Linked DNA regions of Homo sapiens. The protein of the gene in region 1 interacts with the protein of each later gene in a biochemical or structural test. Each region holds a gene or a part of one and is shown in the gene's direction. Other genes may lie near its edges. The genes, in order: MYBL2, CCNA1 and CDKN1C.

The links.
Region 2: the proteins of MYBL2 (region 1) and CCNA1 form a complex in vitro, tested with the Homo sapiens proteins (2 studies listed by BioGRID, with this or other methods).
Region 3: the proteins of MYBL2 (region 1) and CDKN1C form a complex in vitro, tested with the Homo sapiens proteins (one study listed by BioGRID).

Annotation. Positions count from the first base shown.
Region 1 is NC_000020.11:43,698,090-43,701,831, forward strand, and holds part of MYBL2 (myb-related protein B), read left to right. Parts: intron 1-1,667; coding exon 1,668-1,955; intron 1,956-3,742. UniProt on the Homo sapiens protein: Transcription factor involved in the regulation of cell survival, proliferation, and differentiation. Transactivates the expression of the CLU gene.
Region 2 is NC_000013.11:36,430,574-36,434,315, forward strand, and holds the start of CCNA1 (cyclin-A1), read left to right. Parts: upstream 1-1,921; 5' UTR 1,922-2,156; intron 2,157-2,459; 5' UTR 2,460-2,483; coding exon 2,484-2,648; intron 2,649-3,742. UniProt on the Homo sapiens protein: May be involved in the control of the cell cycle at the G1/S (start) and G2/M (mitosis) transitions. May primarily function in the control of the germline meiotic cell cycle and additionally in the control of mitotic cell cycle in some somatic cells.
Region 3 is NC_000011.10:2,883,790-2,887,531, reverse strand, and holds the start of CDKN1C (cyclin-dependent kinase inhibitor 1C), read left to right. Parts: upstream 1-1,756; 5' UTR 1,757-1,898; exon of another isoform or gene 1,899-2,042; coding exon of another isoform or gene 2,043-2,075; coding exon 2,076-2,862; intron 2,863-3,397; coding exon 3,398-3,528; coding exon of another isoform or gene 3,529-3,533; intron 3,534-3,616; 3' UTR 3,617-3,621; coding exon of another isoform or gene 3,622-3,742. UniProt on the Homo sapiens protein: Potent tight-binding inhibitor of several G1 cyclin/CDK complexes (cyclin E-CDK2, cyclin D2-CDK4, and cyclin A-CDK2) and, to lesser extent, of the mitotic cyclin B-CDC2. Negative regulator of cell proliferation.

The DNA of each region.
Region 1 (3,742 bases):
CTGGTTTGTACATTTTATTTGTATATTAAGGATGCTACTCCTTTATCATGTAGTAACTATTTTTTCCCAGTTTGGTAGCTTTTTTTCTTTATTTTATAAAGGTATAATTTACATACAATAAAATTCACTTTTTGTTTGTTCGTTTGTTTTATAGAGATGGGGTTTGCCCAGGCTGGTCTCGAACTCCTGGGCTCAAGGGATCTGTCTGCCTTGGCCTCCCAAAGTGTTGGGATTACAGGTGTGAGCCACCACGCCCCGCATATTTTTTTTTTTTTTTTTTTTTTTTTTTTTTTTTTTTTTTTTTTTGAGACAGAGTCTCGTTCTGTAGCCCAGGCTGGAGTGCAGTGGCGCAGTCTCGGCTCACTGCAAGCTCCATCTTCCGGGTTCACACCATTCTCCTGCCTCAGCCTCTCAAGTAGCTGGAACTACAGGCGCCTGCCACCACACCTGGCTAATTTTTTGTATTTTTAGTAGAGATGGGGTTTCACCGTGTTAGCCAGGATGGTCTCGATCCTCCTGACCTTGTGATCCGCCCGTCTCGGCCTCCCAATGTGCTGGGATTACAGGCGTGATTTTTTTTTTTTTTTTTTTTTTAAATGAGCAGGGTCTTGCTCTGTACCCCAGACTGTAGTGCAGTGGCGTGATCATAGCTCACTGCAACCTTGAACTCATGAACTCAAGGGGTCCTCTTGCCTGAGCTTTTCAGAGTTCTGGGATTACAGGTGTGAGCCGCCACACCCAGCCCCCTCCCCCCTCCCTTTTTTTTTTATTAGAGTCTTGTTGTGTTGCCCAGGCTGGAGTGCAGTGGTGTGATCATAGCCCATTGCAACCTTGAATTCAGGAACTCAAGGGACCCAATTGCCTCAGCCTCCCAAAGTGCTAGAGTTACAGGCATAAGCCACTGTACCTGGTCTTTTTATTTTTTAATGTTTATTAAGCATTAAAAATTTATTTTTTAATTTTTTTGAGACAGAGTTTTGCTCTTGTTACCTAGGCTGTAGTGCAATGGTGCGATCTCAGCTCACTGCAACCTCTGCCTCCCAGGTTCAAGCAATTCTCCTGCCTCAGCCTCCCGAGTAGCTAGGATTACAGGTGCCTGCCACCACACCTGGCTAATTTTGTTTTGTTTTGTTTTTAGTAGAGACAGGGTTTCACCATGTTGGCCAGGCTGATCTCGAACTCTTGACCTCAGGTGATCCACCAGCCTCGACCTCCCAAAGTGTTGGGATTACAGGCGTGAGCCTCTGCACCCAACCTCTGTGTATTACTTCTTTCATCTGAGCCATTTGAGAGTTAGTTATGTAGCATAGATTCCTAAGAATAAGGCCATTTGCTTACATAACCACAATAAAGTTATATTCAATCCAGGGAATTTAAGCCTAATTCAGGATCTTTATCTACAGTTTATATTCCATTTTTCCCTGTCCATGATGCAGTCTAAGACCAGACATTGCATTTAGTTGTCCTATCCCTTTAGTCAGCCTTTCTTAGTGTCATGATGTTGACATTTTGGAAGTATATGGTATGGCTAATTATTCTGTAGAATGTTTCTCTATTTGGGTTCATCACAGTTTCCTTCTTAGATTCAGGTTGTGTGGTTTAGCTGGAAACTACTATATAGTCTATATCTCAGCGAAATGCAAATGGTGTATTCTTGTGTCTTACAGGGAAGTCTTCTGACCAACTGGCCCTCCGTCCCTCCTACCATAAAGGAGGAGGAAAACAGTGAGGAGGAACTTGCAGCAGCCACCACATCGAAGGAACAGGAGCCCATCGGTACAGATCTGGACGCAGTGCGAACACCAGAGCCCTTGGAGGAATTCCCGAAGCGTGAGGACCAGGAAGGCTCCCCACCAGAAACGAGCCTGCCTTACAAGTGGGTGGTGGAGGCAGCTAACCTCCTCATCCCTGCTGTGGGTTCTAGCCTCTCTGAAGCCCTGGACTTGATCGAGTCGGTATGTTGGTCACAACACTTCACAGTGAGCACAGAACACCCCCAGCAGGAAGTGCTTCTCTCTCAGGCCCACATCCTTTTGCTCATTCCATCGCCCTGCTAACAGTTACTGACTTGATGCTGAATGCCTAGCCCTGACCCAAGGGCTGGGGACACCAGGGTTGTCAGCATGCAGTCCCTATCCTTGGGGAGCTCCCGGTGTGTGCAGCAGGAGTTTGTGGTGGCATCTGACCTCTATGTATGGCACAGGGCGGGGTGGGAAGGCTGCCCAGAGGAGGTGGCACTGAACTGAGTCCTAAAGGTTGACTGGCAGGTGACAGCACAGGACAGCGTGGTATTTGTGGCATCACACATGGTTGGGTCTCCCTGAAGAGGAGCCCAGGAAATGCCAAGTCTTGGTGCTGGTCTTGGAGTGGTGAGTGGGTTCTGGTTACTCAGGGTGGGGCAGCCATTGAGCCCGTGTTGTGGTTACTGTGTTGGCTGTGTGGTTGTGTCCTTTGAGGAGGGCTTCTTGGTGTGACACCCCGGCTCCTGGCTGCATCGGCCAGGCCTGCTGTGTAGAGCGGGTTTTGGGAGGTGAAAGACCAGAGGCCTGGTCACTAGGGTGGGGAGTTCAGTATGGGGGTCCGTGTTCGCCTTTCCACCCAGGTGTCTCCCATCCTAGAACATCTAACTGCCAGGGTCTGAGCTTAACATACAGTCTGCGTGGTATCCTGTGAGGTGTGTCATTTCTGTTTTTTAGGTGAAACTGAGGCTCAGAGAGGTCAAGTAGTGTACCCAAGGTTGCACAGCAAGTATACTTGGTGGTCTTGACTGCCATGCTATGCTCCTGCTACTATCGCTTGGCAGGCACAGCTCGCTTGTATTGAGCACCCACTGATTGCCGGAGCCAGTGCTTAATGAGTAATTACAGTACCTAACATTGGAGTGCTTGCCGCGTGCCAGGCCCATCACTTGCTACCTAATGTGTAGGCTCTTAGTTGGTCTTTAACAGCCTGTGAGGTGGGTAGTGGACTCATCAACAGTGAGAGCACCCCACGCTCAGAGAGGTTAGGAGACTTGGCCAGGTTCACACAGCCGGTGACCTCCAGGAACAGGAGTTAAACCTTGCTGTCCGGCTCAGAGCTCAGGCTCTTTCCACAATGACCTTCAGCGCCTGTTGGGGGAGTTACTGCGTGTGTGGAAATCCCATCTTCCCTCCTCTGCTCCGTCCACTTCAGTGGTCCTTGTAGGATGTACTTCTGGTCTACCAGACACTGTCGGTGCTGGGTCCTCCCTGAATTGGGGTGTGGGCCTGAGGTCGGTCCTGCCCCCCAGCTGGCCTCCACCCTTAGGAGTGAACTACCCCAGGGAACCAGAACTCGGCTTTAGTGTCTGGGTCCACTCAGAAGCCAGAACCCAAAGACCAAAGTGGAAGCCTCTGTGTCCAGAAGCCTTTTGGTTTGTGTTGTGATTTATTGGGTAAAGGAGGGAAAACCTGTAGTGACTCACGGGCTTGTTCTAGAAGCTGAGTGAGTAACTTTGGGAAGACCGAATCCCCTTAGCTCAGCTTCCTTGGTATGAAAGGGAAAGTAATGCTTCCCTAGCAGAATTGTGGGGATTGGAAATAACTTTTGTGAGCTGCCCCAAGGAGGCATCAATGATGAGTGACATCCCATTCACTGCTCTATATTTCGTTCTATAAAAATATCTGCAGGCTGGGTACTGTGGTTCATGTCTGTAATCCCAGCACTTTGGGAGGCTGAGGTGAGAGGATCACGTGAGCCCAGGAATTTGAGACCAGCCTGG
Region 2 (3,742 bases), on another chromosome or scaffold:
GTCTCGTGAGCGCAGCCAATCTTGTCCGCTCCCAAGCGACTCAGGCTCTTGGCAGGACTTGCTGTAGAGTCCCAGACGGAGTTAGCCACTGAGTCCTTCAGCGACCCAGGAAATAACAACACTGTTGGCAGGTGGGGGAGGGCGCCCGGGAAGATATCCAATAGTGGCGTCAGGCAAGAGGACAGAAATGCTCCTTTCATTCACCTTTCGAAGCAGAGCATTTGGTCCCCGTTGGCCTCTGACTCTCTGTTGCGGCAATCTAGATGTTACCAGAATTCCCGTGTTTCCTTCATATTCAAAGGCACAGGAAATCTGGGGTGCAAGCGGACTGCTGTCTCTCAAGGAATAGAAGTCTGTGACAAACGTATAGAAATGAGTTTCATGTTGAACAAGATCCGTTTCTGCGTTCCTCCCTCATCCAGCCTTGATTCTCCAGATGCTTACCAACTTCTTAATATTTACCTCAACTGCAAGGCTTTCAACCGGCGCTTTTGTTAGAATACTACTATCTTCCCATTAAAGCAATGTCCACACTCAGTTTGCTTGGTGAAAATGTTAATAACGCACACTTAGAAAAACGGTGATAACCGTTGCTTGCATAAAGTGGCCATTTGAATAGACTTTGGATCTGATTTAGAGATTTAGGGATGGATGTTTTAAAAAAAGCAAAAGTAGTAACAGACTATAGCATTGGTAATGTGTGTGTGCATATATACATATTATTTTTAAAAAAATAAAGTTCGATTATTTCACCTGGCTTGTCAGTCACCTATGCAGGCGTCTGAGCCCCCGGGTTTCCAGGAGCCCCCCGTATAAGGACCCCAGGGACTCCTCTCCCCACGCGGCCGGGCCGCCCGCCCGGCCCCCAGCCCGGAGAGCTGCCACCGACCCCCTCAACGTCCCAAGCCCCAGCTCTGTCGCCCGCGTTCCTTCCTCTTCCTGGGCCACAATCTTGGCTTTCCCGGGCCGGCTTCACGCAGTTGCGCAGGAGCCCGCGGGGGAAGACCTCTCGTGGGGACCTCGAGCACGACGTGCGACCCTAAATCCCCACATCTCCTCTGCCGCCTCGCAGGCCACATGCACCGGGAGCCGGGCGGGGCAGGCGCGGCCCGCAAGGACCCCCGCGATGGAGACGCAACACTGCCGCGACTGCACTTGGGGCAGCCCCGCCGCGTCCCAGCCGCCTCCCGGCAGGAAGCGTAGGTGTGTGAGCCGACCCGGAGCGAGCCGCGCCCTCGGGCCAGCGTGGGCAGGGCGCCGCAGCCTGCGCAGCCCCGAGGACCCCGCGTCGCTCTCCCGAGCCAGGGTTCTCAGGAGCGGGCCGCGCAGGAGACGTTAGAGGGGGTTGTTAGCGGCTGTTGGGAGAACGGGTCACGGAAACAGTCCCTTCCAAAGCCGGGGCCATCGTGGGGTGGGCGAGTCCGCCCTCCCAGGCCGGGGGCGCGGACCAGAGGGGACGTGTGCAGACGGCCGCGGTCAGCCCCACCTCGCCCGGGCGGAGACGCACAGCTGGAGCTGGAGGGCCGTCGCCCGTTGGGCCCTCAGGGGCCTGAACGCCCAGGGGTCGCGGCGAGTCCACCCGGAGCGAGTCAGGTGAGCAGGTCGCCATGGCGATGCGGCCCCGGAGAGCGCACGCCTGCCGCGGTCGGCATGGAAACGCTCCCGCTAGGTCCGGGGGCGCCGCTGATTGGCCGATTCAACAGACGCGGGTGGGCAGCTCAGCCGCATCGCTAAGCCCGGCCGCCTCCCAGGCTGGAATCCCTCGACACTTGGTCCTTCCCGCCCCGCCCTTCCGTGCCCTGCCCTTCCCTGCCCTTCCCCGCCCTGCCCCGCCCGGCCCGGCCCGGCCCTGCCCAACCCTGCCCCGCCCTGCCCCGCCCAGCCGGCCACCTCTTAACCGCGATCCTCCAGTGCACTTGCCAGTTGTTCCGGACACATAGAAAGATAACGACGGGAAGAGCGGGGCCCGCTTTGGGGTCCAGGCAGGTTTTGGGGCCTCCTGTCTGGTGGGAGGAGGCCGCAGCGCAGCACCCTGCTCGTCACTTGGGATGGAGACCGGCTTTCCCGCAATCATGTACCCTGGATCTTTTATTGGGGGCTGGGGAGAAGAGTATCTCAGCTGGGAAGGACCGGGGCTCCCAGATTTCGTCTTCCAGGTAACGTGGGTTTAGTATCCCGACTTGGAGGCTTGTCAGAATGTTTCTCTCCTTCCAGCCCAACACGAAGTCTTGGGATAAAAAGCCTCCCTCAGGGATTCAAATAACTGTTTTGATTCAGAGCAACTTTGATCGCCTGTGCGGTCGCACCTGCCCTTTCAGCCCCAATAATTACTGGGAAGATCAGCAATTGGTGTTAGTCCCATTGCTTGGTGCTCTCCCTCCTAGAGGTTCGCTGTGTCCTTGGAGCCCGGGGTGGACGGAATCGACTAAACAGCTTGTCTGTTTCTCTTTCCCTGGTAGCAGCAGCCCGTGGAGTCTGAAGCAATGCACTGCAGCAACCCCAAGAGTGGAGTTGTGCTGGCTACAGTGGCCCGAGGTCCCGATGCTTGTCAGATACTCACCAGAGCCCCGCTGGGCCAGGATCCCCCGCAGAGGACAGTGCTAGGGCTGCTAACTGCAAATGGGCAGTACAGGAGGACCTGTGGCCAGGTAATGACTCAGACGCATTGAGAATGATGCTTGTGGAGAACAGCTCTCCTGCTTTGGTGCCAGGTGCTTTTCTCTTGCCCTTGTACCTACAACTCCCCCTGAGTATTACAACCCTGGAATCTGGACTACAGGAAAGTTGATTGATTTATTTTCTTTCTTTCTTTCTTTCTTTCTTTCTTTCTTTCTTTCTTTCTTTCTTTCTTTCTTTCTTTCTTTCTTTCGTTCTTTCTTTCTTTCTTTTCTTTCTCTTTCTTTCCTTCTTTCTTTTTCTTTGTTTCTCTTCCTTCTTCCTTTCCTTTTTTTTTCTTTCCTTTCCTTTCCTTCTTTTTTTTTTTTTGAGACGGAGTTTCGCTCTTGTCGCCAGGCTGGAGTGCAGTGACGCGATCTCGGCTCACTGCAACCTCCACCTCCCGGGTTCAAGCGATTCTCCTGCCTCAGCCTCCCGAGTAGCTGGGATTTCAGGCACCCACCACCACGCCCGGCTAATTTTTGTGTTTTTAGTAGAGATGGGATTTCACCATGTTGGCCAGGCTGGTCACCAACTCCTGACCTCAGGTGACCCGCCCACCTCGGCCTCCCAAAGTGTTGGGATTACAGGCGTCAGCCACGGTGGCAGGCCAGTTGATTTCTTAAGATCACCTTGAGGGGTTCGGTTTTCAGCTAGAAATAGTGATTAGTTTTCTTTGTTATTTTTTCCACTATCAAGGAAATAGGTCTAGGAACTGTTTGGGTTATGTATATTAAAGTAATTTAAGGGCTGGGCTAAAAGGAAATGTGAATGCTTCCAAATAAACTGTGGAACTGGGGTTCCTCCAGGTTAGAGCAGTGTTCACATTGATGCAGGCTGTGCCTAAAGCAAACCTGGATAATCTTGGCTGTGTTCATTGCGGATAGTGTTAAAATCAGGATTAGATCAGGCTAGATTAGATTACTCCAAAATGGGTGCTTTGAAGGCAGACATCTTCCCAGTACTGACTAAGCAGCTATGCTAACAGGTAATGGTCCCTCAGATATTAGTTGTGTGAACTTAACTGATCATAGATACCTTAACCAGACTGAAAACTATACCTTTCCTATTTCATAAGTGAGAAAAT
Region 3 (3,742 bases), on another chromosome or scaffold:
AGCAGACTAGACTTTGCCTCTTTCTGCCCCCAGGCCAGTTGATATGAGCCCTGCTTGAGGGGTTCGCAGGGCCTGGGGAGCCTTCTTCAGCTTCTCTTTGTTTTCCTAAGATGAAAATTGTGACATCTGGGCTTGTTGCGGGAAATTTGTAAATTGTGCACAGAGAAGAATATGAAATTGCACATAAATCATGGCTTTTGGTTCCACCATCAAGAGCCAAGAATGGCCCTGGCCCCTCTCCTGGGTTAACGCCCTGTCCCATCCAGTTCACCCCCCTCACTTCAGATCTCGCTTCCCTGAGACCCAGAAGACCCGCCCTGCTCCCCCAGCTGCAGCTGCACACTGCCACAGCATTCCATGGGGGTGGGGGTGTCTTGGGACTCAAAGGCAGGCTGGTTGGGGTTCAGGGGACCGCACCTTCCCTCCCTCCCAGAGGTCTCTCTGCTGGCTCACAGGCTCACCTGAGATAGGGGCTTAGATCTCATGGGCTGCTGGACCCTCCAACAGGTGTCTGACAGTCCCCATCCCGATCTGGGAGGCTCCTGGTTTGAGGAGGGGGCTCCCTGCCTCATGGTAGGTGGGCCAAAAGGGAGGCAGCAGGAAATAATGGTCTCTTTTGGTCTGGCCTGGCTGGGGTGAAGCACCGTGTGTGTGCGTGCGTGTGTGTGTGTGTGTGTGTGTGCGTGCGCGCACGACCGAGGTCTGTACCAGGAAGGGCTGCAGGCGGGGGAGGGGCATGGTCCTTCACAGCCCCTTCCCCTATGACCTCGGGCAGATCTTTCACTTTTACCCAGTACAACAGCTTCCAGCCAGCCTGGACAGGCAGATCCCGGGGCTGGAGTGGTCTGGCCCAAGGCTGAGAAGGGCTGGGACCCCCGACAGTGACATGATGGGCTCAGCCCCTGTTCCATCTACTGGGCAGGGTGGGCCTCCGCAGATAGCGGCTTCAGACTCCAGCTCCAGGGGGCTGGTGGGAGTCTCTCAAGGTGTCCCACACATGGTCCCTCGGGGAAAGAGTGGAGCTGACCCCTGTCCCCCCTCCCGACTCGAGGGCCTTAGGGCCAGCAGGTGTGTGAGGGCTCCAGGCGCGCGGAGCCCTCGAAGGGACACCAGCCCAGCAGCAGCAGGCCGCGCGGGGGCAGCCGAAGACCCCATCCGGCGCAGGCCAGGGCCGAGCTGGCAGCGGCGGGTCCAAGCCTCGTCAGCTGGCGCAGGAGGCCCACGGGCGAGCGCGGGACGGAGCTGGGCGCCGGGGTCCGGACCGGGCCGGGGTCGAGTTGGGCCTGGCCGGACACCGGACCCGCCAGGAGCCGGCCCCTGCCGCGCTGGGCTGAGGCCCCCGCCTGCAGACAAAGGAGCCGGCGGGGGGCGGGAGCCGGGGGGGTGGGGGAGTGTTGCAGGGGGGATGGGGCGAGGGGGCGGGCGTCGCGGTGTCACGTTACCGCCCGCAGCGCCCTTTAACTCCCGCCCCCGCCCCGCTCACCGCCCCCTTCCCCTGCTACAGCGCGCTCGCCCCGCGGCCGCCAATCAGCCGCGCGCCCCGGCCGCGCGCCCCGCCCCGCCCCCGGTGGGTGTGCGCGCGGCCAATGGGCGGTGCGCGGGGGCCGGGCCGCGGCGGGGCGGGGCAGCGGGGCGGCCGCCAATCGCCGTGGTGTTGTTGAAACTGAAAATACTACATTATGCTAATCGCGGCCGGGCCCGCGCGCACGGGGGTGGGGCCCGCGCGTATAAAGGGGGCGCAGGCGGGCTGGGCGTTCCACAGGCCAAGTGCGCTGTGCTCGAGGGGTGCCGGCCAGGCCTGAGCGAGCGAGCTAGCCAGCAGGCATCGAGGGGGCGCGGCTGCCGTCCGGACGAGACAGGCGAACCCGACGCAGAAGAGTCCACCACCGGACAGCCAGGTAGCCGCCGCGTCCCTCGCACACGCAGAGTCGGGCGGCGCGGGGTCTCCCTTGCGCCCGGCCTCCGCCCTCTCCTCCTCTCCTTTCCCCTTCTTCTCGCTGTCCTCTCCTCTCTCGCTGCCCGCGTTTGCGCAGCCCCGGGCCATGTCCGACGCGTCCCTCCGCAGCACATCCACGATGGAGCGTCTTGTCGCCCGTGGGACCTTCCCAGTACTAGTGCGCACCAGCGCCTGCCGCAGCCTCTTCGGGCCGGTGGACCACGAGGAGCTGAGCCGCGAGCTGCAGGCCCGCCTGGCCGAGCTGAACGCCGAGGACCAGAACCGCTGGGATTACGACTTCCAGCAGGACATGCCGCTGCGGGGCCCTGGACGCCTGCAGTGGACCGAAGTGGACAGCGACTCGGTGCCCGCGTTCTACCGCGAGACGGTGCAGGTGGGGCGCTGCCGCCTGCTGCTGGCGCCGCGGCCCGTCGCGGTCGCGGTGGCTGTCAGCCCGCCCCTCGAGCCGGCCGCTGAGTCCCTCGACGGCCTCGAGGAGGCGCCGGAGCAGCTGCCTAGTGTCCCGGTCCCGGCCCCGGCGTCCACCCCGCCCCCAGTCCCGGTCCTGGCTCCAGCCCCGGCCCCGGCTCCGGCTCCGGTCGCGGCTCCGGTCGCGGCTCCGGTCGCGGTCGCGGTCCTGGCCCCGGCCCCGGCCCCGGCTCCGGCTCCGGCTCCGGCCCCGGCTCCAGTCGCGGCCCCGGCCCCAGCCCCGGCCCCGGCCCCGGCCCCGGCCCCCGCCCCGGCCCCGGCCCCGGACGCGGCGCCTCAAGAGAGCGCCGAGCAGGGCGCGAACCAGGGGCAGCGCGGCCAGGAGCCTCTCGCTGACCAGCTGCACTCGGGGATTTCGGGACGTCCCGCGGCCGGCACCGCGGCCGCCAGCGCCAACGGCGCGGCGATCAAGAAGCTGTCCGGGCCTCTGATCTCCGGTGAGCCCCGCACGGCCCCGCCCCGGCCCGGCCCGGCCCCGCTTTGTCCGGCCGGCCGGTCCCCCCAGCCCTCGGGGGCCTCGCTGGGTTCCCGCCTCCTCCCGTGGCATTAAAGGGCCCGCAGCGCTCAGGGCGCGGCTGCGCCCTTACCCCCCTCCCCGCCCCGTTGTTGTGCCCTCCAGCGGCTTCGCGCGGGCGGGGTGGGAGGCTGAATCCCGGCCGCGACCCCCCGGGAGCGCAGTTTTCGCCCCCGGCCGCGGGAGCCCCTCCCCGGGCGCGGCCGGGCGCCGTGAGCACGGCGTGGAGGGGGTTAAGCGCGGCGGCGGCCCCGGGGGGCTTGGCCGCGGGACAAGGGGAAATGCTTACACAGCACATTGCGCGGCGACGTAAACAAAGCTGACCCGCCGCGGACCTCGGCGCGGGCGGGGACGGCGCCCCCACCCCGGCCGGCCCGCGCCCCGCGCCCTCTCCCGGCCCCCTCTCGGGTCTCCGGGCCGGCCCCGCCCTGACCGGCCGCGCGCGCTGTCGCCCGCAGATTTCTTCGCCAAGCGCAAGAGATCAGCGCCTGAGAAGTCGTCGGGCGATGTCCCCGCGCCGTGTCCCTCTCCAAGCGCCGCCCCTGGCGTGGGCTCGGTGGAGCAGACCCCGCGCAAGAGGCTGCGGTGAGCCAAGTGAGTACAGCGCACCTGGGGGGGCGCGGAGGGCCGACCCGCCGGGTCCCCGCCGGCTTTGCTGACCGCCCCTCTCCTCGCAGTTTAGAGCCCAAAGAGCCCCGAGGGAACCTGCCGGGGCAGCGGACGTTGGAAGGGCGCTGGGCCTCGGCTGGGACCGTTCATGTAGCAGCAACCGGCGGCGGCTGCCGCAGAGCAGCGTTCGGTTT